5 separate regions of the Homo sapiens genome follow, and regions 1, 2, 3 and 5 are each reported to be linked to region 4. Evidence: microRNA targets listed by miRTarBase, many of them from high-throughput screens and not tested one by one. Region 4 holds a microRNA gene; each other region holds the end of a gene's coding sequence.
Evidence for each region. The annotated mature microRNA hsa-miR-1909-3p reads CGCAGGGGCCGGGUGCUCACCG and lies in region 4 at 2,015-2,036, opposite strand. An mRNA with a match to its seed (bases 2 to 7 or 8) in the 3' UTR can be bound and repressed. Matches are read on the target gene's strand: a 7mer-m8 pairs with bases 2 to 8, a 7mer-A1 pairs with bases 2 to 7 and ends in A, and an 8mer does both.

Region 1 (5,489 bases), not on the chromosome of region 4:
ACGCAGCTGGTGACTGGTTGGGGCAGACCGGACCCAGGTTTCCTGACTCCTGGCCCAAGTCTCTTCCTCCTATCCTGCGGGATCACTGGGGGGCTCTCAGGGAACAGCAGCAGTGCCATAGCCAGGCTCTCTGCTGCCCAGCGCTGGGGTGAGGCTGCCGTTGTCAGCGTGGACCACTAACCAGCCCGTCTTCTCTCTCTGCTCCCACCCCTGCCGCCCTCACCCTGCCCTTGTTGTCTCTGTCTCTCACGTCTCTCTTCTGCTGTCTCTCCTACCTGTCTTCTGGCTCTCTCTGTACCCTTCCTGGTGCTGCCGTGCCCCCAGGAGGAGATGACCAGTGCCTTGGCCACAATGCGCGTTGACTACGAGCAGATCAAGATAAAAAAGATTGAAGATGCATCCAACCCTCTGCTGCTGAAGAGGCGGAAGAAAGCTCGGGCCCTGGAGGCTGCGGCTCTGGCCCACTGAGCCACCGCGCCCTCCTGCCCACGGGAGGACAAGCAATAACTCTCTACAGGAATATATTTTTTAAACGAAGAGACAGAACTGTCCACATCTGCCTCCTCTCCTCCTCAGCTGCATGGAGCCTGGAACTGCATCAGTGACTGAATTCTGCCTTGGTTCTGGCCACCCCAGAGTGGGAGAGGCTGGGAGGTTGGGAGGCTGTGGAGAGAAGTGAGCAAGGTGCTCTTGAACCTGTGCTCATTTTGCAATTTTATCAGTAATTTGACTTAGAGTTTTTACGAAACCTCTTTTGTTGTCCTTGCCCCACTCCTCTCCACCAGACGCCTTCCTCTCTGGATACTGCAAAGGCTTGTGGTTTGTTAGAGGGTATTTGTGGAAACTGTCATAGGGATTGTCCCTGTGTTGTCCCATCTGCCCTCCCTGTTTCTCCACAACAGCCTGGGGTTGTCCCCGCTGGCTCACGCGTTCTGGGAGCTCAAGGCCACCTTGGAGGAGGATGCCACGCACTTCCTCTCTCGGAGCCCTCAGACATCTCCAGTGTGCCAGACAAATAGGAGTGAGTGTATGTGTGTGTGTGTGTGTGTGTGTGTGCACACGTGTGTATGAGTGCGCAGATCTGTGCCTGGGATCGTGCATTTGAGGGGCCAGGGGCAGGCAGGGCTGCAGAGGGAGACGGCCCTGCTGGGGCTTAGGAACCTTCTCCCTTCTTGGGTCTGCCCTGCCCATACTGAGCCTGCCAAAGTGCCTGGGAAGCCCACCCAGATTCTGAAACAGGCCCTCTGTGGCCTGTCTCTATTAGCTGGGTTCCGGGAGGCAGAGAGGAGTGACCGGGCACTGGCACTGCGATCAGGAAGACTGGACCCCCAGCCCCCAGGGCCCCCCTCCCCCCACTTAGTGCTGGTCCTAGGTCCTCTGAGGCACTCATCTACTGAATGACCTCTCTACTTCCCCTTCTTGCCATTATTAACCCATTTTTGTTTATTTTCCTTAAATTTTTAGCCATTTCTCCATGGGCCACCGCCCAGCTCATGTAGGTGAGCCTGGGCAGCTTCTGTTGGCAGAGCTTTTGCATTTCCTGTGTTTGTCCTGGGTTCTGGGGCATCAGCCAGCTACCCCTTGTGGGCAAAGGCAGGGCCACTTTTGAAGTCTTCCCTCAGATTTCCATTGTGTGGCCTGGTGGGTCAGGGGGAGTCTTTGCACCAAAGATGTCCTGACTTTGCCCCCTTGCCCATCAGCCATTTGCCATCACCCCAAACAACTCAGCTTCGGGGCCGGTGAGGGGAGGGGCCTCCCCCAGCACAGATGAGGAGCAGCTGGGGTAGGCTGTCTGTGCCATGGCCCCCCACTCCCCCTTCCCTTGGAGGGAGAGGTGGCAGGAATACTTCACCTTTCCTCTCCCTCAGGGGCAGGTGGTGGAGGGGCGCCCAGGGTCGTCTTTGTGTATGGGGGAAGGCGCTGGGTGCCTGCAGCGCCTCCCTTGTCTCAGATGGTGTGTCCAGCACTCGATTGTTGTAAACTGTTGTTTTGTATGAGCGAAATTGTCTTTACTAAACAGATTTAATAGTTGAGAGTTTTTCTTTCTCTTTCTTCCTGGGGCTCAGGCCTTACCCCCCACCGCCTCTATGTGCAGAGGGGTTTTGTTGGGTGGTGAGGGTGTGGGTTGGGGGTCCTGGGAGAGGAGCGGAGGGCCTCCTGGGCGAGCAGGAGCCAGCACCTCATTGGTGAGGACCTGGGCAGGATGTGTGTAGGGCATCCTTAAAGCAGGACAGGGAGGCTGCAAGGGCTCAAGCCCATCTTCTTTTGCCAAATGCAGAATCAGGAGCCAAGCTCTTTTTGGCATATGATTCTTTGACCTACATAGCCACCACCAGGTGCTGGCACCTTTAGCCTGCGAAAGCCAGCTGGTATAGGGTCCAGGGAAGAGGGGGTGCTGGTGAATTTGGTTGAAATCCTGGTAAAGATACCAGGGGAGCAGGTTAGTGTAGTACCGGCACTCTCCAGGAGGCGGTGATAGGGGTCAGGCAGAAACCAAAGGCTCTACCTCGGAGCTAGAAGAGACTTCATGGTTCCTGTGGCCCATTCTCAGTGCACAGATGAGAAGACTGAAGCCCAGAGCTGGGGCCACATGATGACTTGACCCGCAGCAGAGCCTAAAGTAGAAACTGGGCTACCTGCCCCATTGCAGTCCCTCCGGGTCAGATGGGAAAATAGCACATCCTTCACTGTGTCACCCGCATTTTCTTATGTGACCCTCAGAGCTGCCAGCAAGAGACAGTACAGGGCGGCTGCTGATTGCTGTTTTATGTGTGAGGAAAGTGACTGAGAAGGTGGGATGATGTGCCACAGTTGCATGGTGGGATTGGAACTCAGATCCCTCTCCCCGCTGGAGGAGAGACCTGCTTGTCCCCTTTGCTGCCAGAAGGACCATGTCTCCACCCTCAGCTCCTGGGAACAGCAGGCCCTGGACCTCCCCTTCATGACAGTGGGTTGCTGAGGTTGGTTCTCGCCTTGAGACACTACTCATCACTCTAAAATCACAGCTCAAAACAAACCAGCATGGGGGTTTGCTTTCAGAGAAATCCACTTATTTTGTCTGCACTTATGAAGGTGTTAGAAGCAATAACCCAAGAAGGAGGAATAAGGGGTGCTAGGAGGGAGTCAGGGAGAGAAGGAGAGGAAGTTGTCAGAGTTCTGCTATCTTTAGAAGCTGTTATTAGTTTCCTGTTAACAAAGCTTCTGCCATATTAATTTTATGGCTTAAAACAACACAAATTTATGATATTCCTGTTCTGTAGGTCAGGAGTGTGATAGGGTCTCACTAGGCTGGCTGGAGTCCAGGTCTCAGCAGGGCTGCATTCCTCTTTGGAGGGTGTTTCCTTGCCTTTATCAATTCTAGGGGCTTCCTGCATTCCTTGGGTCATGACCCCCTTTCTCCATCTTCAACCGCAACCTTGCATTTTTCTGATCCTTCTGTGGTCACTTCTCTGACCCAGCTGGTGTGATAAGATTGAGCCCACTCAGATAATCCAGGATAATCTCCTCATTGCAGGGCCCTTAACCGTAATCCCATCTGCAAAGTCCCCTTTGCCATGTAAGGGAACATAGCCACAGTCTGGGGACCAAGACATGGGCATCACTGGGGGCCAGGATTCTGCCACAGAGGCCCGTTGCACAGCCTTCTTGGCCTCATGCCCAACGTTGGCCCTTGTGTTTTGCTTCCTTCCCTGACTCAGCCCATTTCAGGAGGATGCTTTTGTGGTCAGCAAGGATTCAGGCTGGGGTTGGCTTTCAGGGAAAATGGCTGGGGCGAAGGGCCAGGAGGGGTCTGGCATGGTTAGTGGGGTCTTGCCACAGCTTTTCACCCCCATGCCCATGTCCCTGACCTTCCATGCTGGCATGGCCCTGCGAGTCCCTGTCTCTAGGGAGAGCTTAACACCTCTGCTAAATGCCTGGGTGGGATGGCAATGGAAACTTTTGTCCCTAAAGGCAGATGCTGGCTTGCATGGGTTCAGGAGCAGGTGTGCTTCTTGAACACCCTTAAGTAGTGTGAGATGTAAAGAGGAGCATAGAGACACTCCTGGGCCCCTACCAAGTACCGATGCTGGGCTCTTCCCCTCCATCTCTTCATTATCAGAACCCTCTGAGGTAGTCAGTCTCGTTTCCAGCTTACCTGTAAGAAACTCCAACTCAGAGGAGTAAAGGGACTCGCCCAGCATCACACAGCTAGTCAGGGATTCTGACCTGGATCTCCTGTTTCCAAGTTTAGAGCTTCTTTAAGAAAGCCCATGGACATCGTCTTGGTAAGGGAGTGCAGAGGGGGCGGGGAGGAGAGGAGATATGAGGCTGGATTCCACTCCACTGAGGAAGGTCTAGTTTTCTTTGCTATAGAATGAGGGTGATAGTCCTAGGCCTGTGGCTGTTTTAAGGATTCAGTGAGATGGTGGATTTATTTATTTATCTGAGACAGAGTCTTACTCCATCACCCATGCTGGAGTGCAGTTGTGTGATCTTGGCTCACTGCAACCTCCGCCTCCCAGGTTCAAGGAATTCCCCTGCCTCGGCCTCCTGAGTAGCTGGAATTACAGGCACATACCACCATGCCCAGCTAATTTTTGTATTTTTAGAAGAGATGAGGTTTTACCATGTTGGCCAGGCTGGTCTCGAACTCCTGATCTCCAGTGATCCGGCCACCTCAGCCTCCCAAAAAGTGCTGGGCTTACAGGCATGAGCCACTGTGCCCAGCCTAGATGGTGGATTTAAATGCTTCCTAAAATGCCAGCTGCCAGGTGGCCTTTATCACCAGGAGGGTCCCACCCCTCAGTGCGCTGCTCAGCAGTGGGAGCACAGGGAGCCCCAGGCTTGGAGTCGAGTCAGTGGCCTAGGCCTGGTCCACGCTCCTGCCCTGAGCTTCACGGCGGGTCTCTGTGCCTTGGGGTGAGCAGGCAGTTGGGTTGGTAAACAATAACAGTAAATTTGGGGTTTTCCTTTGACTGGGTTGGAGACAGGAAATGCAGGAGGCTGTGAGTGACGAGTGGGTAGAGTGGGTAGCAGGTAGGTCGGGTAGGTCGGGCCTGCTCAGGGTGTGAAGGAAATTCAGTTATTCAAGGGAGGAGGGTGAGGGTGGTGAGGCTGGGGAAAGTGGCTGGCCCACTTACTGGTGAATATAAACAAACCCTCTGGGCACTCCCCAGGTGGGGCAGAGTGGGGACAGGGGAGGCTTTGAGGGGCAGCCACCGCATCCTCAGCCCTGAGAATGCAGCTCCTTTCGGGCTCTGTCTCTGGAAGCCTACATTTAGGGGCTCCAGCCGCCCCTGGGTCCTTTTGCTCACTTCATCTTCCTGTCGTCTCCCTGCACTCAGTCAGAACAGTGTGGCTCCCCAGCATACTCGACCACTAGATAATCCAGGCACTTGGTGTATGTCCTGTGCTTTGGGAGAAACAAATGAAGTGTAGGGCACAGTTCCTGCCCTTGAGAACCTAGTTGGGGAGATACAAAATGCCTGTGTGCAGCAGCAAGTGGCTTT
Region 2 (5,772 bases), not on the chromosome of region 4:
ACTCTGCCTATGGCTTCTGGACTGTGAGCTTTAAGGGCCCAGGCCCAGAAGGATGGGCACAAGAAACCACAGTCCCTCCCTCCTAGCTCCCAGCAGGTCCGATGTGTCCGTTTTGAGCAGTGGCCCATGCAGCCAGCTTTCTGCCCCTTCACTTTGCACAGCACTTGTTACCCAAGAAGGGCCAGGGCAAGGACACGCGGGTGCAAAGCCGAGTGTGTGCGGGCTGTGCTGGGTGCAGGTGGCTGAGTGTCAGCTGCTGCCGAAGCGATCAGGGGTCGTGTGTGGCAGGACTGGGGAAGGGGCGGCGGCAGGTTAAGGAGGCGGCCCACCCTGCTGGCATCTGGCCAGCCCTCCAACAATGCCTCCATTATTTCCCAGCGTCCGTGGTGATGGAATGGCCCTTGGGGAGGGTGGTTCAGGCGGGAGACACAGGCTTGGGTCCCCTGCTGTGGGGTCCAGAGACCTGGGCCGGGCTGTGTGCAAGAGCTGACGGGCACTGGTCACCGGGGGAACCTAGCACCCCTTGGTCGGCCCCATCGCCCCCCAGCTGTGCCTGCGATGCCCCCTTTTTTTCTAGGGGCCTCCACTCCAACCGCTGTCCCGCACTCTTGCAGGCCAGCGTCAGGCCCTCCCCGCCACCCTGGGATCTGGAAACTCACTCTCTGCAGTTTCCATCTCTGTGTCCCGCCTGCAGAGCGGCGGGACTTTCTTTGCCTGGCCGCTGGCCCTGCACGCACCCCCTTCCTCGCGCCTCTGCCGCCCTTGCCGTTTCTGTCCTCAGTGTCCTGCTGGGGCTTACCCCGAGTCCCGCCCAAGGTGCAGACGGCGGCGGCCCCGGGCCTCGCTCGGTCGCGCTCGAGCCCCGTTTCCAGCAGCATCGCGGCCACCAGGCCGAGTGGCGCGAGACGCGCTCCTCCTAGGTCAGCGTCCCCTGGAGGGTTCGGGGCTCCCAAGTCCCGCCGCGTCGTGCGGGGCAGGGAGCCCGGGAGCCACTGGGCCTGGCGCTGTCCGCGGTGCTGAAGGAGGCGCCCGCTGCCCGCCCCGCCCGCGCGCCCGCCCACCTCCCGGGGCCCCTCTCGTCGCCCCGGTCCCCACCCCCGCCTCTGCCCCGTGTCGGGCGCGCCTCCCTCCCTGGCTGGGTTGGGCCGCACTCAAGGCAGCCCCCGCCCTCACCCCTCTGAGACCCAGGGTGGCCGTGCCCGCTCCTCCCTAAGCTCCAGGCCCTGCTGAGGCGCTGGGATTCGCCGAGTTTCGCAGCAAGCGGGTCGTCCAGCCGCAGGGCAGGAGGACACTGACCCTACCCTTCTGGCGTGCAGCCTCTGGAAGGCAGTGCCCAGGCCGTGCCCCGGGGCAGCCCCATGCGTGATCAACTCCAGCCCAGGGCTCACTGGGGCACTCTCCTGCAGGTGTTTTGCTGGTCAGGGAACTTTCCACTCTTAACCTCCTTGAACTCAACCCCCAACTTCTGGGAGGAGCTCAGCCCGCACCCCTCCGGGCTGCCAGGAGGAGAGGCACCTGCAGTCCCCTGTAACAAAAGCACTGCTGAGGACTCAAGACCTTGGGCATAGGCAGGGCCTGAAGGAATCGCCCAGTACACACCCAGGCTGGTGTCTGCTCGGTGCCTGACGAGTGACTGAGTTACTGCCAGCCTCTGCACAGCCTGGCCAGGGAGGTGCCAACCGGCTTCCTCCACAGCCACAGGCAAGACTGTTGACCACTGCCCTGCCCCCACTGGCACAGCAAAAGTAGGGGAGGGGCAGAAGACAACACGGGGTCAAGGGCACCCCACAGAACACCACAAACAGCCTTAGCAGGACACTCACACCCAGGAAGCAGAGGGATGGCCACTCAAGCAAGCTGGGGGTCCTCTGAGGTGCCCTCAGGCTGGGCTGCCGCGCGTGCTCTTTGAAGTGTGTAGCTGACATGCATCTCAGCTGCCCTTTAACCTGTGTAAAATCAAGGGTCTTGTCCTGTGAGTCTCGTCCAGATCAGCTCCAGGGAGATGATCTATCACTGCTTTCCATCTTCTACTTTCCATCCGACCCTTGGGCTGTGTCCCAAAAGCCAATGATTCGATAGGAGAAACTCTAGGATTTCAGATGTCCAGTACGTGAACAAAAGAGGGGTCCATTCTGCACCCACCGCCTCTACCACAACTCCCACTGGTAGAGCTGGTTCACATTTCAAAAGAATCACCATTTTTTCAAATGTCAGATTTCTTTATTAAAATGTGCACATTATAGTTTACTTAAATACAAAATGTTCACTTTCCTTGCAGGTAAGAAATTTCACTGACATTTCCATGTCAATTAGCTTCTTTTTAATAAAAATCCTTCCACTGAAAATAAATAAGCATTTAAATTACTGAACTATTATATTCATTAGTCTCAATACCTCTTAAAATACTTAAAACTTTAGAAAATAGACTCTAAACATTGCCTAAAGGTGGCATCCAGCTCTGAGCAGGCCACACAAGGTGTGTCTGAGTATGGCCATATGACTCCTGGGGCCACCTCCACGACGGCCCAGCCCCACCGACGCTCTGCTGAAAATCCTGCCCCTCAGCAGGACGCAAGCTTGTTCCCCAAATAGTGGTGACCTCAAACTGCAATATGATGAAACCTGCAGCCAACACTGCCCTCCACAAGGGTTTCTGGAAAGGCTGAAGCTGGAGACGGTAAACCACAACACCGTCCCAGGTCACTCCAGGTCACCCCAGCTAAAGACATTCAACACCAGCCAAAAGGCTAAAGTTTAGTTTGAAGGGTTCAAAGGCAAATACACTGAAACCCACGTGTAAACCTGCCTGGTTTTCAAACTGGAAGAGAAACACTTTGGTGTCTTCAATAACCCAGGCCTGCACTGGATGAAGCAATGAAGGCAAGGTCACGGCTGCTAAAGCACAGAGGGGTTAAAAAGTGTGAAACCAGAAGCAACTCTCGAGTGAGACACGAAGCAGCAGGCTGACGCACCAGACACCGCTCCCACCAGACACCTCTCCCGCCAGCTGCAGGGCCCTGGGCAGCGTTCTCAGCCCAGCCATTCTGTGACAGTTGTTGAAAGAATCAGCTGTTGCCTTTTTTTCTCAAGCGACAACAATCACATCAATATTACATGGTCTTATGAATACATCCATGTCATCAACTTGTTAGTAAACACATGATTATACAACATAAAGTAGGCAAAGCGGAAAAAATATCTACAACCGTCAAAGTCTCTCTCTCTCTCATACACACACACACACACACACACACACACACACACACACGGGCACACAAATACATCTGAGCCTATTTTAGCCAAATCAAATTTTGCCTGTGAGACACACCAATAGCCACAAAGAATCTCAATATAAATGTTCCCAGAAATAGTGTATTTGTTTGTTTACATCTTCAGAGGCAACGGACCACTAAATGTTTTGGGTTTAAAAACAATGTTTAAAATTATCAAATGGTAAAAGACATCATGACAAAAGCTTGGGAGATCAGTGCCTGTGTGGAGACCCTTCCCAAAACAGCTTCAGGCAAAGGAAGCCTGGCCCCCTCCGTGGGCCGAGTGAGATGCTTGTGTGTGCAGCAGGTGCCTCTGTGGTGCTGGGTGAAGAGCAGACGACAGGGGGGGCTTTAGAAGTCTCCCTGGGGCCTACGCTCCCAAGGGCAGACTGCTCTCCTCCCCATCCCCCAACAGAGGGGCCTGTGCTCTAAGCACTGCCCGCTGAGCCCAGAGCTGCCCTCCAGGCACCCGCCGTCCCAACGGCCCCCATTTACTTGTCTCTCTCTTGTCACCAGATAGACAGACAAAGGCGCTGCCTCTGAGGGTTAAATGAGCCCCCATCCTTCCAACCCCCAGGTCCACAGCCCAAGGCCTCTGGGGGTTATTTTCTGAAACGCAGCACAGCCACAGAATTCCTTGGCTCCTCCCCTGTTGAAATCCCCACGTCTGGTGTCGAACACCCGGAGGAACAAGGAGAGCCCTCAGGAACCTGCCCTAGGGAAGCAGCTACAAACACAGGATAGTCCCTGGAGCACTTGCTTGGAGGGGCTGCAGAGGCCGACTGCGCTTCCGGCTCTGTCTGTCCCCGCCCGGCTAAAGGAAAACACTTGGCAGCCTGGAGCAGGGGGCGTGGGGGGAGCGGGGGGAGGGGGAGCGAGGGGAGTGGGGGGGAGCCAGGAGCCGCGGGGGGGATGGGCGAGGTTCTCCAAATACAAAAACAAGGCCCTGCAGGATGGGGCGGAGTGGAGGAAACGAGATGAAAGTGTGTGGGGAAGACTATCTGGCCTGGACTCTGCACCCTCTTTTCACATCTAGAAGAGTAAAAATACAGAAGTCTTTTTGCTGTAAGACCTGCAAAAGGAGCATGAACAGACTTGAGTACGCCAGGAATGCAAATATCCCCACAAAATTACCCCGTGTTCTTCCCTTGTTAGAAGAGCGTTTGTAAAACCAGGACTTTGAAGCCAAAAGGTGCCATCCGATGTGAAACCAGGCCCGCATGTTTATAAAATCCCTGATCATAAATATTAAAGCTGCAGGTGGCACGGGGCAGGGCTGCCTCCAAGGGAGCTTCCGCCGTGGCTGGCAGCACCCGGGCACTCACACGGCCGGGTGGTGGTGCTTGACCTTCCACCGCCTGGACCTCACCCGGAAGAAGAAGTACATCACCATGAGGAACAGGGATGAAGCCACGTACAGCACGACACAGAGACTCATGTCCAGGCTGGAGAAGTCAACCCCGAGGAAGGGTGCGGCCCCGCCCACCTCCTTGTGGGCCCCGGGCCCATCCAGACTCTGGAGTTTCCCGTCCAAGCTGTGATGCAAGCTCTCTGGAAGGGCAGGCCTGGGGCCCAGTGCACCAGGTGGACGGACGCTCTGGGTGTCTCGGTCTCCATGGGACACCTCTGGGGGAGTGAGTCTTTTCTCCTCTTCCTCACCCCTGGCCAGGGTTCCTCCTTCACTGGAATCCCCCTGGTCTGCGGAATACGTGTCTAAGAGGTTGTCGCGGCCATAGTGCTGCTTCAAGAATGTGAGCACGTGGCCTTCATCCCAGCTGGCCAGGCCCTTAATTTCCTCATGGCAGGCTGGGCAGAGGTCCGGAGTGGGCCACTGAAGCTTTGGAAACCGGGGATCCTCACTCAGATGGCCTAGGAAGAAAAGGAAGCGGGAGAGCCAGAGGGAAGGAGGCTTTGTGCAGCCACGTGCAGCGTGCGGCAACCGGACTCCCACTCCCACCCACCACGGGCCTCCACTGCCCTGGCCCAGGGTCCTGCCAGGCCTCCCTCCCTGCCCTTCCCACCACCCGTCCCTTGCAGTTCGGCCCAGATAACATCCTGCTTCTGCAGGCCCCTGCGCACGTGTTCCCCTCTGCCGGTTCCCATAGCCTGCAAGTGAGGAGACGCTACACGCTCGGCCTCCGCCACTTCCCAGACCACACCTGTCCCAAACCACCCAGCACTCCACTTCCAAAACGGAGCATGCAGCTCTCACCTGGAGGCCTTTCTCCGCACAGTGCTGCCTGTGTGCCCCTCCCCCCACTGCTGCCCCTCTGCCCTTTCCTGAGGGTGCACCTGAGGCCCACTACCTACAGAGCCCCGGCCACCTGGGTGCTATGGACAGTGGGCCTTAGGTGCACCTTCAGGAAAGGGCAGAGGGGCAGCAATGAATTTCCACTGCACTTCAGGTACACTGGCCCTTTCCGGACTACAAATCCCTTCAAGATCTCCAAAACTCGTTTCTGAAGTGACATGTGCTCACTTCCAGGCCCAACAGGCATCC
Region 3 (5,772 bases), not on the chromosome of region 4:
AGCTGGGGGTTGATCCCAGGTATTAGCCACTAGACCATCCGGCGTCTCCACCTGCCACTTCTCTCTCCACTCTCCACTGCCACGGTGCACCCTGCAGGCTTCATGCCCTGGAGCGCACCTCCTCTCCTCTGCTCTGCCCGGTGGCACCTCCCTCCTCATTCAGGGCCATGAGTGAATACTGCCTCCTTCTGAAGGAAGCCCTCCTTGGTTACTCACCTTCCCACCAGTCTCCTGTCTTTTGCAACCCTGGGTGCCTCCTCTGAATTAGTAATCTTCCTATAAACAAGGGACCCTGTCTTGCTCATCCTGGAATTCCCCCAAACTAGGAAGCGCTCCCTAGAGAGGATTTCCTGGGAGCCTGGAGACCTGAATTTAAATTGATGAAACTTGGGTCAGGCATTAACATTTTGAAGCCTGTTTCCTCACTTGTAAAAGGGGCAGGAGCATTAGGTGGCACTGTGGACAGGACAGGGCTGTGTAAACTGTGGAGTGCTGTCTGGAGGGAGCAGGCATTATTGCTGCTGCATAATGGATTTGACAAGGTTTTCCTCCTCTCTCTATTAGGACTCCCATGGCGTCCCTCGGGATGGGGAGCAGGTGGCTGAAAGCAACCCCACAGCTAGCTCCCTCTCAGCCCCACAGCTGGACTGTGGGTGGGGGTGGGGGAATTGGTTTCAACCTCCTTCCTGGCCCTCCCCACCAAGGAGCATATGACTGACAGGCTCTCCCTGCCCCCTGCCCCAAGCGTAACAAGTGACCACTGCTCTCTGGGGGCAGCCACTGGCTTCAGGTTCGCCTCCTACTCCATTGCCTCCATAATTACAAGATGCTCTTAGCCTGACTCCCACGGACTCCCATCACCCAGCGCTCGGCTCTCTCGGTGGGGAGGGCAGAGAATGTTTCACTGTCCCTCTGTCTTCTGTGGCATCCTTTGCCTTGCAGCCACAGCCCAGCTAGCCCAGGCCAAGGGAGTCCGACCCCCACCCCGAAGCACAGGGAAGTTGCTGCCCTTTCCCGCAGTGACAGGAATCCTCTCAAAGGTTCTGGAAGGCAAGGATGCGGCCATCCCTGGAGACGCCAAGGTCAGGGAGCCCTGGGGGAAGGGGGAGGGAGGGCTTGCGTCTGTTGCAGGTCCCAGGCAAAGGGGCTGCTTTCCACTCCCGAGGGGGGTGGGTTGGTGGCGGCGGAAGGAGGCTAGGAGGGTGCAGCGCTACAGACCACAGTGAGGGAGTGGGGATGACGCTAGTGCGCCCGGGACCGGGGCCGCCGGGTTCGATGCCCGGGCTGAGGGGTCCCTCGCAGAAGGTGCGGGACGGGGAAGCCCCTGCGCCGGGCTGCCCCGGGTCAGGAAGGAGTTGCCGGGTCGTGCAAGGTGAAGGAAGCCTTAGGGGCGAGTGGCTGGGGGCAGGTTCCCGAGGGCAAGAACTCTCCGACCTTCAGGGCGCTGCGGGGCGACCCCGCTCAGGGTTCAGTCCGAGAACCCAAAGGTTGGTGGCTCCCGGGCATCACTCGCTCCCACTCGGCCGGGCCCGGCCGCCCCTCGCCCCGGCCCTCCCCTCCCGCTGACCTCTCACGACGTCCAGGGCGAGGGCCACCAGGAGGCAGAGCCAGGGGCCGTAGGGCCCCCGAGGGGCCGCTGTTGTGCGACCGGCCATCCGCGCGCACATCCTTCCCACAGAAGGCGGGGACGAGGCGGGCGGCTCAGGTGGCCCCAGTCCCGCACGGCATCTCCCGCACCCGCTCCGCGCCGTCCCCACCTGGCCCGCTGGGTCCCGGCCGCCGCCGCCGCCGCCGCCGCCCGCCCCGCGGCTGCAATTCCCAGACAATGGAGCGGGAGCAGTGGGGTGGGAGGGAGCGAATCGCAGCACATGGGCTGCCCCCTCCGCCCCGCCGGGTCCTAGTGCCCTACGGATCCCCAATCCCTGCGCGCTCAGGCGACCGAGGTCGGGAAGAGGGCCACGTCCCTGGAAGCAACAGAGGACGGCCGCCTCTGCCAGGAGGGACTCGGTGAGTTCTGTGTGGCTCCCTCACGGAAGCTTCTGATCAGGGAAGAAAAAGCCACTTTCTCTGCCTCACCCACCCCCACAAGCAGCTCACTTGTGAAGGCATCTGACACCTGAGTCAGAACCAGAATTCAGGGACACATGGGACGGGAGCTGCAGGGACAGGAAAGGAGGGAGGGGGTCAAACGGGGCCAGATGCCAACCACCTGAGCCTGCCCTGACAGAGCTAGGCCACCGCCGTGGAGGAAGGGCTCTAGGTGCAGGCAGCTCTAGTCTCTTGACCAGCTCCACCTGGGCAGCGTCCTGCAGCGCTTAGGAGGGTTGAGGGTTGCCCAACACTCCCGAGGGAAGGCCAGCCTCAAGGGTCCTGACCCAGTGTTGCCTACCAGGCAGTTTGGGGAGAGGCCCAGAGCAGGGGCCCCAGCTGCACACTCTCATGCCCTGGGCAGCTTACAAAGAAAAAATTATGTCTGAGGCCCTCCGCAAAATTGGTCCAGCCTGTGGGCCGACTGGAAACCTTGGCACAGGAAAGTCCTCAGGTGGGTGGTGAAGGGGAGGGCAGGCAAGTCTTCTCCAGGCTGCCCACCCACCTCAGCACACTGCAGGGAAGGGGTGACCCCTCTGCCCAGCAAGCACACGCATTTCCAGCAGTGCCAGTCGTTCCTACGTTTTGTAATGGGGGCATGCTTTCCTAATTCCTTGTGCTCCTGGAGGGAAGGGTACCTGGTACCAGCCTGCCTTTTCAGCTCTCCCCTCTGCCAGCTTCACACTGCCCCCACAGGGAGAAATTGGGAGGCGGAGCTGCACTACAGAAATGGGTTTAGCAGTAGAGGAGACATGGAAGCAATCCAGACTTGGAGTAAATACATTTTATTCAGAACAAGATAATAAAATAGCGTGCACTTTATTTAAAACCAACCAAGCACTGATAAAAAATATATATCACTGCAGCTGTGATTCCACATCAAACCTGAACAGTAAGAATTGGGCATTTATTCTTCACATCATGTGCCAAGCCTGGCAGAGAAGGACATCCACCTCCACTAGAGCCTCAAAGGAAAAGTGGCCCCTAACCACCAAGACAGGGTACCCTGGTGGAGAGGGGCAGCTGGCAGCTCACCCTGCTCTCTGCAGACCACGTGAAGGGAAAGGAGCTGCCTGTGTTCCTCCCGGGCTGCCGGGGTGGGCACTGGTCAGCAACTCCTTCTCGGTTTCAGGTTGTGGAGCGATGGGGAGAGAAGTGCATGCAGTTGTGCAGACAAGGAGGCGGGTCCTCCCTCCTCTTTCAGGGTCTCTGAAACCCCCACAGGGCATATAATGCCCAGCAAGGTCCCACTTGCAGGCACATGCCTACAAAGCAGCAGCCATCTTTTGCTTTGGCTGATGGGGAATCAAGATTCTGAGAGTGACTGCTCTTTTCTTGACACAAAGCAGCCACAGAACACTTTCCTACATACAGTATGGCAGCAGGCAAGCAGAAGGCCCTGCTGGCTCGGATTAAGGCACTTGAAAGAGACACAAGGTACATCCTCCTCCCCTGCAGCCCCCACAGGCCTCAGGGGACCCTGTTTCCCCACCCTTTATCCTCAGGTCCCCTTACCCCTGCCCCTCCCTACTGCTGGGCAATGAGGAGGACAGGAGCGTGCCTTAAAGGACCATGGTTTGGTGGGAGTACAGGGTAGGAGGATGAGGAAAACAAGAAGGGAGCTGGAGATTTGGCCAAGGAGCAACTTCAGAAGGACAGGAGAGCACGAGCATTAGGAGGAAGCCAAGGCAGCAGCAGAGGGAAGCCAGTTAAGTCATGAGAGACCAACGGCAGTGATGTTTGCTGGCGCAGATGCAGAAGCCAGAGGGAGGCCCCTCCAACCTTCCCTGGTGAGGCAGGCTGGGAGCAGAGAAAGGGTTAAGAGAGCCAACCCCAGACAGAGAACCTCAGAAGACAGGGCCGCAAGGACAGGCAGGGGGAATGGTCTTTCTCTGTTTCTCTTGGCTAGTGGGGCTGCGGCAAGGATCAATGTTCTGAAGGTTCAGAGACAGGGCAAGAAAAGGGCAGGGGGCTGGCAGGAGGGCTGCATGGCCCCGAAGCAGCTCAGCTCTTTGGTATGACACTGGCGGTGTGTGGGGCATCCGGCTCACTCCTCCTCCACACTGCGGGCCCCCTTGGCCGCTCGCCTCTGGCGCCAGCGCAGCTCCTCCACCTGGCGTTCCAGCCCTCGCACCTTGGCCTCGAGTTGGGCCCCAGAGGCTCGGGAGCCAGTGAGCCGGCTCAGCAGGGCGTAGAGGATCAGCAAGGCCAGGAGTAGCAGGGCCCGGGTGGAAGGGTCAGGCACCGACCTCATCAGGGCCACGAAGCCGGCCAGGAAGATGACAAGCTTCAGGCCCCACAGGATCCGCCCCAGCAAGGCCAAGACCAAGCCGAGGAGCAGAGACAGCAGCCAGTAGACGACCAGGGCCCCTGCTCCCCACAGCAGGAAGGTCTGGACCTGGCCAGGGCTGAGCTTCAGGCCCTGGGCGAGGTAATCACCTGGAAGCCAAGAGAGTCACAGAGTCAGCCAACCTGGAGAAGTGGTGAGGGGAGAGCGGGGCAAGAGCTAAAAGGGTGGGAGGTGCTAGGCACATTGCAAAGGAATAAGCCGTTCTCGCAGACTCAGAGTGATATGGGTTGGAATCTCAGCTCTGTTTCTTGCTGGCTGTGAGGCCTGGAGTAGATTACTTGCTTCTGTTGAGCTGCAGTTTCATTTACTAAACGGGAACAATTCTACTGCCTCCCTGTACTGTGGCTGGCAATTAAATGAGATACTACAGCTCAGCACGATGCCTGATAGGAAGTGAACAACTGGCACGTGGTGGCGGAAGTTCTTTTTTAGGGGGTCTGGGTGGGACAGGGTTTTGCTCCATCGCCGAGGCTGGAGTGCAGTGACGTGATCCCGGCTCACTGCAACCTCTACCTCCTGGGCTCAAGCGATCCTCCCACCTCAGCTCCCAAGTAGCTGGGACAACAGACACACGCCACCATGCTTGGCTAATTTTTTATAGAGACGAGGTCTCATTATATTGCCCAGGCTGGTCTCAAACTTCTGGCCTCAAGTGACCCTCCTGCCTTGACCTCCCAAAGTGCTGGGATTACAGGCGGGAGCCACCACACCTGGCCATGGTAGTTCTTGGCTTGCTCTTTGGCCATGTCTCTGCAGAATCCTGGGAAGGGTTAAGCAGCTTGGGGAAAAGGCTAGACCCTGACAAAGATGAACTCCCACAAGTAGGAAAGTACAGGCAAAGCTCTGGCTGACTACCCAGCACTCGAACACTCACCAGCTAGTCCCAAGGCATTCAGCAGCTGTGCGGCGATCCCAGACAGAGCAAAGAAGGCCACAGAAATGGCTGATGAGATGGCCCACAACACTTGGGACGAAGACTGTGGAAAGAGCACGGAGCGAGATGAGTTCATAATGAACAACGGTCCTCGCCTTCACGCCTGATCACCACTGTCCAGGCAAGAACTGCAGGAATGTCTCAGACCTGTTTCTCACCCAGTGGTGACAGGCCTGGGTCAGAGGGTAGGGGCCTTGGGCCTGGCTGAGGGGTCCCTTCCACATCCACCTTCTAGTCTACAGGGATGGCCAACAGGCTGTCTCTCCTTCCTGAACTGGAAACTAGGGCATCTGGGACATAATTTAACTGCTTTGCTGGGATACTTTGGAGGGAGTAGTAGGTGTACTTGTGTGTGAATGACGGAGACAATCAAATACTTTTAGTAGTCACCCTATAAAAC
Region 4 (5,772 bases):
ACAGTGGCTCATGCCTGTAATCCCAACGCTTTGGGAGGCCGAGGCAGGTGGATCACTTGAGGTCAGGAGTTCGAGACCAGCTTGGCCAACGTGGTGAAACCCCATCTCTACTAAAAATACGAAATTAGCCAGGTGTGATGGCACAGCCATAATCCCAGCTACTCGGCAGACAGAGGTTGCAGCCAGCTGAGACTGGGTGACAAAGCGAGACTGTGTCTCAAAAATAAAGAAGAAAAAGAAAACAACTCCTTTACAGAAGAGGTGGGAGAGTCACTAGTCACAAGAACAGCCCTCGAGGGTGGAAGGGCCTGGCCTAACCACGGTCCCCCAGGAGGGCCCTGGAGAGATGCAGAGCCCAGAACCGGGAAGGGAGCCTTGGGATGGAGTCCTCTGGGGAGGGCCCCCACGTCCTCATCCCGGGACCTGTGCCCTTGGCCTTGCCCTTCAGCAGAAGCCCAAGACCAGGGTGGCAGGAAACCCACTCCAGGCAACCTGCCCCCAGCTGCTGGGTCCTGTCCCGCAAGGCTCATCACTTTTTCTACTTGAGGTCAATAAAAAGTGGGGCCTAAACACCCCTGGGCCTCCCATTTCCAAATGGGGTCCCGATGCAACCACAGTTGCCCGAGACGTGCGTGCACTACACAATGTGTGGCGTTTCCTGGCAAGGGCCGGAGCAGCTTTCCGTGTCTGCACTCCATCCTTTGACGGGCAACACACAGCAGCTCCCAGTCTCTTTAACCCCCTCTCACCATCTGTGTGCAGTCCCTATCTCTGGGCAGGGCAGAGAGGGAAGCCAGCTCTGTGCACAGGGCCCAGCTCCACACAGGGCTGGGGACACCACCCACTGTCCGAGAGGCACTAGAAGCTGCAGGATGGTGGCCCATGATCTGGGGCTGGAACTGGGACCCCACAGCAGGTGTGGCCCAGCCCTGGGGGAGCCAGCCCTGGGCCAGCTTTTGTGAGGGAAAGTTTCACTGCTCTGTTTTCTCTGCGTTGATGGGAAGAGAATCAGTCCCGGCTGCAGGGACAGTGGCCTCCCCGGGGCACATGCAGAGGCCTCACCAGGCACCAAGACCAAGACCACCACAAAATCTAAAATCCATACAAACATTTATTCTGTCCCTGCCTGGAGGTGAGGGGGAAGGGGGTCCGGAGAGCCCCGCAGAGGAGGACGGGGCTCTAGCGGGAAGACAGTGTCCGGAGGCCGGTGGGCTCCCTCTAGACGGCAGACCCTGGGGCTAACGAGGGGCCAGCTGGGTTCTCAGAGGTCACGGAGTGCAGGGGTGGGGCGGCGAGTGGTGGAAGCCGGCGCCCCCGAAGACCGGCCAGCCCCTGGAGCACAGAGGCGGGTCCAGCCCACACTGCGCTGAGTGTGGCCCTGGCCCCCACTGGGGTCTGTCCCACCCCCACCCCGCAGGAGGGAAGGCAGCAGGCCCGCTCTTCCCGGTGGGAAAGATGCTGTGCAAGTCATCAGGTTTAAATTAAAAATAATAAAAATAACAATACAAAATAAAAAAAGACTGTCTCAAACAAACCTGGGACAAGCCCGCCCCGCGACCCACGTGAGGAGCAGAGGTGCCGGCCACCACCCGGGAGGGAGGGCCTGGCAGGAGGGGCAGGAGGGGCTGCGGGCCGGGTGGGGGCGGGCTCTGTCCTGGTCTCCATCAGCAGCAGTTTCTAGAGACGCCAGAGGGCTGGGGGGCAGAGGGTGGGGACCGGCGGAGGGGTGCGGCAGGACGTGAGCGGGGGTGGGCTGGGCTGGGCGTTCTCTGGCCGCCAGCTCATCCCGCTGCTCTGGGCTGCCTCGGCCAGGTGGACGGGTTACCGGAGATTTATTGCACTGTTTTGGAAGAGGCATGGGGCTAAGGACCAGCGGGACGGCAGGAGAGGCGGGTGGGAGGCGGGCAGGCGTCATCGCTTGGTCTTGGCGTCTTCTCGAACCTTCCAGATCACCAGGTGCATGCAGGCGCCGGCGTCCTCGCTGGAGCTGTGCCCATCCACTGCGGGGCAGATGCGGTGAGCACCCGGCCCCTGCGCAGGGACGGCCCCAGGGCAGGCACCGGCACTCACCATTGTCCTGGATGATCTGTCTGAGGTAGTCGGCCATGAGGTTCCGCAGGGACCGCTTGTAGGGGAGGCCCAGGCGGTGGGGGAAGAGCACAGACGTGTCCACCACGGTGCTGTGGATGACCTGTGGGCAGCGGCAGAGATCAGCGCACGTGGGGCCTGCGCAGGTCCTGCTGGAGAACCGCGCGGGACCCGGGCCGGCAGGGCACCTTCAGGGCCAGGAGGTCGCTCTCCAGGCTGTGTCCGATGAGGATGGTGTCAGCGCTGAACATGCTCAGCAGAACGGCCTGGACGTCACGCAGCGTGACACTTGTGTCGGCAAGGTCAGCCTCCGTCACCCCCGAAAACCTGGGGGAACGGGCAGGAGGGGCACCAGGGCTCAGCCTGGAAGCACTGGCTGGTGGGGCGGGGGAGGGTGGGTCCCTGGGGAGAGGCGGCTGGGAGGGCTCCCAGCTCGTGGAGGGCACTGGCCACACCTGGTGTTGTAGTCCACGATCTCGTTGTCAGGCTTCACGAAGGTGTCATAAACCACGTGCACGTCCGTGTCGACCACCGTGACGCGCGTCAGCTCCAGGCCATATGTGGTGTAGGACTGCGGGCAAGGGATGCACCTCAGATGTGTCCCAGGCACCGGCCTCCCTCCCTCCCCTTCCCTGCCCCTTTGAGTCTCCAGAGCCCCTCCAGGCAGAGGCAGTGACCAGAGACTCTGTGGGACTTCTAGGAGAGGCCGAGTGGGGTGTGACCTCAGTAACCCCCTTTCGCAAAGCCCTCCTGCCTCCCATTCAGAGGCAGAGCCGGGGCCCAGTGCCCGGTGTGCTTGGCTCTGCTGGGAAGTATGGGGTGTTGGTCCAGGGCAGGAGCCACAGGCACCGGTGCTGCGAGAGAAACCCTGAGCGCTGGCCGGTGAGCCAGGCCCAGATGGGGCCAGATGGGGCGGCCGCACCAGGCCAGGTCCTCCCCAATCCTGAACCCGACGCTGGGCAGAGAACAGCCTCACCATCTCGCAGTCCAGGGCGTAGATCCCCGGGTGGGTGTCTCCTGAGAGCTCTTTCTCAAAGGTCTTCACGAAGCCCTCAAGGCGCTCCTTCCGGCCATCCTGCACGTGTTGCTGGGGGTGGAGAAGGCAGGTGAGGGCAGCTTCGGGGTGCAGTGGGGGCGGGGGTGGCAGCAGCAGCACATCTCTGAGCCCTTCGGGACCATCCTATCCATCCATCACGCCCATTCACTGGTTGGGACCCTGGTGAGCAGGTGGGGAAGGGGGCTTGCCAAGAAGACACAGGGAGGACGGCTTCCCAGGATGGGAAGTGGCCAGGGACAGGGCCTGGGGCCTACGGGTGCTACGTTCTCTGGGTAACACAAGAAAGGCTGCCCGGGGGCCCAGACCCTGAGCCCAGGACTGTGCTGTGTCCCGAGACCCCACACCAACGATGGGGAGGCAGAAGTCTGTTGAGAACAGGCAGAGGGGACTGGGACGCCAGGGCTCACCTTTGCGACTTGGCAGCCGACAGAGCCGGCGGCAGCCGAGCAGCACATGTACTGGGTCTCCCAGCCTCCGGCCACTGCAGGGGACACAGACACACAGTCAGGGCCCGGCCAGGCCCACTCCACAGCCCCCGGGGCACTGACCACCTGCATCTACCGAGCCCTACTAGGGAGTGAGGACTGAGGACAGGAGGCCTCAGCCTCTTGGTGGAGCTGGAAGCAGACCAGGCCCCGGCAGTCGTGTGGCAGCCAGGACGCCCAGGCCTGGATCCAGGGAGACCAGTGCCCTCTGCAGAGGCCTCTTGGCAGCGCTGCCCCGGGCAGCACCCTCCAGGTATCCCTGAGGCGATGGCTTTAGGGGCCGCCACAGGGCTGTGCAAGGCTGGCCATGTGCCCTGAGCGTGGCTGCGTGGTTGCCTGGGGGATTGAATAGAACCACCAGGCCAAGGGTGGGACAAGCCCCTCCGCTCCTGGGGCCAGCAACCTCCACATTTCCATGGACCAAGGGCACAGGAAGGCAGGGACACAGGGCCTTTCAGGTGGTGGCATTTGAACCTTGTCATGGGAAAGCTCTTGTCTTACTTTTGCATAAAGAACAGGTGGAGAGAAAATGAGGCCAAGGGCTAGCCCCGGCTCTGCCAAAGACGGTGCAGCCCAGGGACCCTGAGTGGGATGGAGGGCCTGGGTAAAGCCTTACCCCAGTTCTGGGGGCCTCAAGGGAGGGCCCAGGTTCCGGGGGCCATGGGTGGGAAGGGGAAGGACCCGGGTAAGGCCTTACCCCGGTTCCGGCGCAGCCGTCCCCAGTGGTAATAACACTCCTCGTCCCGGATGCAGCGGCCTGAAGAGGACACGAGGTACTCGGTGCCACAGCGGCAGCAGGTCCTGCAGGAAGCTGTGGGTGGGGACCCAGGTGGAAGCTGAGGCTCACGCTGGGGCCCGCATGCCCGGCCTTGCCCACATCCCGCACCTGCCCACCTAGGCCGTCGCAGGCCAGCGACTCACAGTCCTTGGGCCTCTTCTCCTCAGCTGTGAAGATGATTGCGCCCCCGGGCCGCTCTGGGTGCGGGAAGGGGTAGCCGTTCTCCTTGAGCTGGTCCTGGGTGAGCAGGTACTCCCTGAGGCGGCTGTACAGGGCAGCCCCTGTGGACAGGCACAGTGGTCAGCCCCTGCCTGGGATGGCCCACGGGGCGGTAGACACCACCGGGAAAGGCGGCTGGGCCGGCAGGGGCCCACGAAGCACCGTGTGGCACAGCAGGGGCTGGGCCGGCAGAGGCCCACGAAGCACCGTGTGGCAGAGCAGGGGCAGGGCCTTACCTTTCAGGTCCTCCACCCGGGGGCTGCTTGGACGGCTGAGCGAGAAGCTGGTCTTGGCGGCCAACCTGCCCCCCAACACCACCTCGTGGGACACAACCCTGCGGCCACTGGTTTCTGGAAGGAAGGGAGGGAGGGGAGGAGGGTGTGAAGTAGCTGGCTCAGACCCCTGCCCCGCCTGCTCTCCCACCCACCCTGCCCTCCTCAGACCTCTGCCTCAACTCCCCCTTTCTGGGACAGCACCCCACTGACCCCGGGTTCCAGCCTGACCCGAACAGGAGAGGCAGACATGCGGTGAGCCAGGGACGCAGGGCAGCCGCCAGCTCTGCAGGCCCCAGAGCTGCACGGAGGCCCCACACCCAAAGTCTTCGTCCCCTCCCCTCAAGCGAAGGGGGAAGGGCGGGGAGAACAGCACGGGGGATCTAATGGCTTTCGAGGGCTTTGAGCCTTCATGGGCCACCCAGCCTGCGACGCCAACCCAGGGCCCCTCCGAGTGCTAATGCAGGCGGGGACGGGGGCAGGGGCCGGTGATAGCTTAATGCAGCCTGGAGAGGCTGCAATGAAACGCCCAGGTCTCCGCTTTCTTCCTCCCCAGAGCTTAATGCATGGAGCTCGCCCAGCCCTGGGCCTCCTGCTTTGAAGAAGCTGCCGCAGCTCCATTAGCAGGCGGCCCCTCGGCTCGGCTTGGAGACCCCACTCAGCGGAGGAAGGCGGCTGACAGCGAGGACACCAGGGCCAGGTCCGTCCTACACAGAAGCCTGGGAACCAGGCAGCAGGCAGCCCCCCCACAGCACCGCGCTTTCCTTTTGTCTGAGACTGTGGCTGAGCTCAGGGCTGTGAAGGTCCCAGCGAGGGTCCCAGCCCAGCTGCCACCCCAAGAGCAACCCTGAGCCTCCCCCGCCCACCCGCCAG
Region 5 (5,772 bases), not on the chromosome of region 4:
CTCTGTGATTCTGCTACTCTTTTAATGATGTCCAGGGCCCAACCCTCTATTCTTTCTGCCCTCTAGCCACAAGAGATAAGAAAGTGCAGTGCTGCCAAGAAGTCCTCTTGCTTTCACGCTGAACCTTAACTCATAATCAATCACTCGTAGCTTCTCAGCATATTTCCCCAAAAAAAATATGCCCAGTGATAGCCATGGAACAAGTTAGTCCTTATAACTACCATTTCCCAATTTGTTTCAAAAGCCTGATGCCAAGGAATTTCCTGCCTGTGGTTACGCCATCCCAGCTTACTGCCAGTGAAAGTTTTATCAATTGCATCCCAGCCATGGTGCCCAGCCCCACTCACTGCCAGCCCTGAGGTCCTCATTGCGAGCTGATGAGTATTCAGGCTTCAAATTTATATTTTAGAGTAAGCTTTACAGACAACTTACCAAGGTCAGTTTCTCTGTAAGGCAGACTAGAGATGGATACAGGAATGCAGGAAGCATCCTGAAGAGCTGTAGGGTCAGCATGCCTCAGGAAATGGGGAGGCAGGACTGTAGGAGGAGCGAGGTGCTGAGCTACAGTGCAGGTAGAACAAAGACCCAGCTGCTCCTGCGGAGGATCCCAAGGGCTGAGAGCGTCATGTAGTGTTTTTTAATTGAGGAGAGAAGCGTGGCCTTCCTATTTTCAATTCAGCCAATCTTTCTTGTGGGCTGTCCCCTAGAAGGAGGAGTGAACTTGGAATTGGGCAGTGCAGCTTTCCTCAAGGGAGAAGAAGTCCCAGAGAGCCACCCAGCTGAGAACTGCCGGCCTCCAACACCCCAGCAGCCACAGATGCTGAGTTCTCCATTTCTTCCTTAAGGACCCACCAGCACCATTTTATTTATTTAAAATATACTGTAATATCTTTAATGGCCCAAACTGCTCGCGTTAAAAATGTTGATTTTAAAAGCCTGAACTGCTCATGTTAAAAATGCAGCGTCCAAACATGTGCTTCCCCGTAACTGAGTGTGCCCAACTAACAGAAAGATTTCAGATGACACCTGCACTGGGGTGGAGGTGGCCTAGGTGACATCTGAGGCCCTCCCAAGCATGAGACCCATTTCCGTGACTCACCAGGATGTTTTCTAGCCGGAAGGTTTCATTATGTCCAGTGTTCCATGGCTCCTCCAAGTTCTGAGAACACGGAGTCCTCCCCTTACTTCTGGGGCTAAGCAGGGAACCTGCAACTCTCATTGTGAAGCCATCCTCAAGCCACCTGCCTACCCTTTTATAGTCATTAAAATGTCCCTAGGAATTTGGACTTGTTTTGTTCCAAAGGACATGGTCTCAGGGATCAACCTAAGGAACACTAGTGATGAGCTTCTTTAGGTTTGAATGCAAGTAACCTTGTGACCCTCCCTAAAATCCATGGGCCTCAGTTTCCCTAGCAGAATGGAATGACAATCCCTGCTCCCATAGGCTTGTGAGGGTCAAGTGAGGAACCCCGTTGCCACATGTATGAATACCTGAGTACACACCCCCTCCACCTCTTCCCTCCAGGAGAATAAGCTGGCAACCTGGGACAGGATGAGTGAGAATGGGGAGCCTCTTTCTGTGGCTTCTGCCTTGTGCTGGAGTGAAGATAGCCTGGGCAGGATGCAGGTTCAAAGGTGGGGCATAGATGGGCCCAGGCAGCCTCAGATGGGGTAAGTGGAGGCCCCTACAATGGCCTCCCAAGTGGTCTCTCTCATAGCCCCTCGTCTTCCCTGATTTCCAGGCCCGGCATCATCCCTTACTGCGCTGCTCCTCATAGCTGTCCTCCTGGGCCCCATCTACGTCCCCTGGAAGCAGAAGACCTGACTGTAAGTACAAGGAAGGGAGGACAGACCAAGGGCTGTCTCAGAAGGGCAAGGCCAACAGGAAGGCCCAGCCCACATGCCATGCAGCACCAGGGTCCGTGGAGTTAAGCTCCCTCCGCACCCTCGGAAGTCTTGGGGAACCCTTTAAAAGGCTCCCAACCCACAGAAATTATGTGGGTGGTGTACAATGTGGGATGCTTGAAATGTGTTCAAAGATGTCCACAGTGCCCTAGGAGTTTCATGGAGGCAGTGATGAGTGGGTGGTCCCTTGCAGGCTATCTGTAGATTATTTGAATGCTGGGACTCCATGGGGTCAGAGAAATCCACATTGTAAACTAATGTTGAGAAACCCAAATGGGAAGCCCTGAAGGCTGTTTGTGCTCTGACCCTCTGTGTGTCTGAGTGGAAGGAATATTGGAAAGGGCATCAGGACTTGGCAGGATGGCTGAGCAGGCAGAGTTCTATCAGGACTGCCTGTCCACCAGTGACAGGTATCCCAGGAGACCAGCCCCGAGAACATAACAGACTCTCAGGAAACATGTCTTGAAAGATGAGCAGATGACTAAGTGTGGATGTGTTTTCCTACAGCTCCTTCCTTCCTCCCCTGCCACGTGGGACCCTCATCTCTGCTGCCTCCTTCCTTTCCTGAGAGGCTCAGCTTGAGAGAATGAGCCAGTGAGAAGCTTCTCTAGACTTGGCTCCAAACATCTCCCCTCCCAAGACATCTGCCTGCCCACAGGCTCCTGTTGCTCCTTCACACAGACCTGGATGCCCCAGAGCAAGGTCTTCATTCATGGTCCTGAGCAGGTGCCATGGGATTGGGCTCTGGGCACTGACTTAACGGCACCTCCCTAGAAGGCGAGAAACATGCCAAATCTAAACACACCAGGACTCCCATCCATCGCCTTGAGACTGACCGTAAACCACAGACGCTCTCCAGGTTCTCAAGAGTTATCCTGCCTTCCAGATTCCTGCCTATCCCAACTCCCCAGCCTTGTTGAGGTTCTCTATTGCCTCTTGAATACAAATGCACTCCCAAAGTGGTTTTAAGAAAATAAAAAGATTATCCTTCCTCTTTGTCTAAGGGTCCTACTCCTCACACTCAGAAACAAAGAAGCTCTCCCTGCTCTCTCTGTGATGGGAACACTAGTTCTAGCATCCTGCAGGCTTCCCCGCCCTGCTGCTCATGGCGGAAATGCTGCCGCAGTCCAAAAGCCTCCTTGACTCCCGAATCCTCCCTGATGTCTCTTTACACCCCATATTCAATTCTGCCTTCAAAATACTTATGTCCACTCGTGAGATGGTAAGTGTTTAAAAATGGACTCTCTTAAAGGAAAAAAAAAGCTGATTTGTTGTACTTGACAATTTCTGTGGTATAATCACCCCCAACATGGCCAGTTTCAAGCTACCAGAAGTTTAACAACTGGATTGCAAAATTCCTGAAACTTAACGGTTGGCTTTCAGGGGCCAGTCCAAGCCTGCTGCAGGAGAGCACTGAGTTACATCCCTAACCTGCACACTTCTCACCTCCATCACCCCTCCCTGTCCCGGCCAGCATCATCTCTTCCGGGAACACTTCTGTAGCCTCTGTTGGCTTTCATTTTTCAGCTACAGGGATTTTTGGAAAAGTCAAATTGTATCACTCCTCTGCTTCTTCCCCAACACAGCTGCATGGCTCCCTTCATCCCTCCTTCAAGCCTCTGCTCAATGTCACTTTATTAAAGGCACCTTTGGCAAACCACCCTGTACATAATATCAATTCTCCTGTCTACCCTGGCATTCTAATTTCTCTTATCTTGATTAATTTTTATTTAGCATTTATTACCATAAGCATTATAACGAATACAGGCAGCCCTCGCTTTTCACAGCAGTGCAAGATTGCAAGAATGACTGTGCAGCCGGAAACCCAGGAAAGCAATCTCCACATCCAATCAGAAAAACAATGATCATATTGTGACCTTTACAATTTTTTGTCAAAATATAGGAAACTCTCATAGTGTCAGTTACAAATGTAGAAGGCAATAAAAAATAATAAATGAATATTTATTAGTACCCTGTAATTCAAAACATTGGAAACATCAAGTGTTTCAGTATTTTATTTCTTTGTAAAAATGTTTCAAGAGTAGTTGGAAGAGTGCTTACCTCCTTCTTGTACACTTCGGATATGGAGCAAACATCCTTTCTATCTGGGTGTTTTATCACCTTCCTCTCTAAGTTTGGATTTGTTTCCAGCACCTTATCATTTGCACTTTCAGTGTCGTGAAATCTCTGCAAAAGTTCCTTTCACGTGAAGATTTTTGCTGTTGTCACATCCTCAGGGACACCTTCGCCCTATTTGTCAGTACCCCATCCCGTATCTGTTAAATTCACCTTCTCTAAGTCCTGCGGGCTGCCTATCTGAAGTTTTTCAAACACTACCAGGGTCTACGTTGCCTCACCAGCTATTCATGCTTCTATAACTCCACTGACATACAATTTGAACTTTATCTCCAGCATTTTCACTGCTCATTTATTCACTGCATTTTCACTGTGGTTGTCCAATCTCTCTTTCAATTATTTGTTTCCCAAAAATGTCACATGGGCTCATCACCAGTTACATGAGGTTGCAGTCTTATGTGAGCCTGTGCCCCTGGCCTGTGGACTTCACAAGTGCCTCTCAGTTTTTTCCCCTATGGTGGGACAGGATGGCCAGAGGGGGCTGGAGTTGGGTGCTTGCCTTCCCCAGGTAGGTTAGGCTCTGATCAAAGCCCAGCAGATTAGGCACTGGTAAAATAGTTTCTCCTGAGAGCTGGGCTTGGTAAGAAGAAAGAATGCTCTGGTGTAGTTCAGAATGATTCGCTTTCCCCTCCACACCCCCCAGGAAGCACAAGTGAATGTTTCTCTCATATTCACTCTGAGCACCTAATCAAGCTCCTGGAGGTAAATCTCACAACAGTGTTGGAGTTCCCTGCGATTGGGTCCTGCTGGAATCTGTTCCTCAGACTGGCCCACACCAAGCCTCTAGCAATTCTTCAATTACAGTGCAGGTTTTCCTACCCTGGCACTGGTTCCCATGGAGGTTTTGGCTTCAGGAAGTTGTAATTCTCTATATCATTTTGTCTAACTTCCAGTTTTGGAGACAATGGTCTGCTCTGTGACCTCATTTCTCTGACAGACCTGAGAAGAGTTGCCATTTCTTATTTGCTCAGCTTGTTACTTGATGTTGGCCCTAGGGACTTTTTGCAGGGGACATCCAGGAGTTTTGGTTCCATCCTTAAAGGCTGCTACAGTAACAAGACCTCAAACTTTCCACACCCAGAATTACAGTCTCTGAAAATCCAAACTCAGTCCTTAGCTACAGGGCCCTGTGGATCAGGGCTGTCAACTGAGGAAGGGCCAAGGGAACCCTGGCATGAAGTGAGTGCCCCTGGGACAGAGAGCAGGCCCAGAGCAGTCAAACTGTCTCCACTACTGTCCAAGGCTCCCAGGCGTGGGAACCCCAAGGTGGATATCAGCAACTTCCCAGGGGTGGCAACTCTGCCTGCTTCCTCTTTTACTATGAGACCATGCCAGTCTCGTGGCCTTTTCCTTCCACAGCAAATTCCCTCCTCAGATATCATGGCAGGTGGGGCTTCTCCTTCCCTGCAGAGCTCAGAGGCTGGGGTCTCTCCGTGATAAACTTTCAACAGAGCAGGCAATGACCATACCTGTCTTCCAGCCCACCTGGACAACCCTTGCCTCTTTATGCTATTGGGACTCACAGGTGAGAGCAGCCTGTTCTACACAGGTGTATTTATATGTAAGTCTCCTCACCCTCTCAGCCCATCTCACCCGTATCTATGGATTTCCATTTGGGAACATTTTCTTCTCTCCCATCCCAGCAGGAGACAAGATTTGGAGTACACTTTCCGTGAGCATCTGTGCAGACTCTTACCGGGATTTGCCTTTCTTTAGTCACAGTGATTTCCC

Region 1: the mRNA of MAPKAPK2 is a reported target of hsa-miR-1909-3p. The part of its 3' UTR that is shown has no 7-base or 8-base seed match.
Region 2: miRTarBase lists QSOX2 as a target of hsa-miR-1909-3p. Seed matches in the 3' UTR shown: 7mer-m8 at 4,114-4,120 and 7mer-A1 at 3,009-3,015.
Region 3: miRTarBase lists TMEM109 as a target of hsa-miR-1909-3p. Seed matches in the 3' UTR shown: 7mer-m8 at 4,053-4,059 and 7mer-m8 at 3,961-3,967.
Region 5: the mRNA of SIRPG is a reported target of hsa-miR-1909-3p. Seed matches in the 3' UTR shown: 7mer-m8 at 2,426-2,432.

The regions. Positions count from the first base shown.
Region 1 is chr1:206,732,251-206,737,739 of GRCh38, forward strand. It overlaps MAPKAPK2 (MAPK activated protein kinase 2), which reads left to right. Exons shown (of 10, transcript NM_032960.4): 10 at 325-2,031. The coding sequence ends at 468. Among named protein-coding and RNA genes, the nearest start is that of IL19, 36 kb to the right of the region's middle. RefSeq lists an enhancer at 2,377-2,566.
Region 2 is chr9:136,204,135-136,209,906 of GRCh38, forward strand. It overlaps QSOX2 (quiescin sulfhydryl oxidase 2), which reads right to left. Exons shown (of 12, transcript NM_181701.4): 12 at 2,199-5,141. The coding sequence ends at 4,594. It overlaps LHX3 (LIM homeobox 3), which reads right to left and starts at 994. Exons shown (of 6, transcript NM_178138.6): 1 at 800-994. The coding sequence starts at 878. RefSeq lists enhancers at 4,301-4,852, 4,853-5,402.
Region 3 is chr11:60,920,529-60,926,300 of GRCh38, reverse strand. It overlaps TMEM109 (transmembrane protein 109), which reads right to left. Exons shown (of 4, transcript NM_024092.3): 3 at 5,313-5,415; 4 at 2,858-4,527. The coding sequence ends at 4,136. It overlaps TMEM132A (transmembrane protein 132A), which reads right to left and starts at 1,841. Exons shown (of 11, transcript NM_178031.3): 1 at 1,568-1,841. The coding sequence starts at 1,667. LOC124902676 (a long non-coding RNA gene) reads left to right here and starts at 904. Exons shown (of 2, transcript XR_007062688.1): 1 at 904-1,082. RefSeq lists silencers at 1,196-1,265, 1,306-1,525, 1,586-1,945.
Region 4 is chr19:1,814,155-1,819,926 of GRCh38, forward strand. It overlaps MIR1909 (microRNA 1909), which reads right to left and starts at 2,084; the gene lies at 2,005-2,084. REXO1 (RNA exonuclease 1 homolog) reads right to left here. Exons shown (of 16, transcript NM_020695.4): 8 at 4,864-4,977; 9 at 4,552-4,689; 10 at 4,328-4,441; 11 at 3,553-3,626; 12 at 3,065-3,175; 13 at 2,544-2,659; 14 at 2,277-2,415; 15 at 2,071-2,191; 16 at 1,094-2,000. The coding sequence ends at 1,912.
Region 5 is chr20:1,626,277-1,632,048 of GRCh38, reverse strand. SIRPG (signal regulatory protein gamma) reads left to right here. Exons shown (of 6, transcript NM_018556.4): 5 at 1,743-1,827; 6 at 2,413-2,897. The coding sequence ends at 1,825. Among named protein-coding and RNA genes, the nearest start is that of SIRPG-AS1, 4.3 kb to the left of the region's middle.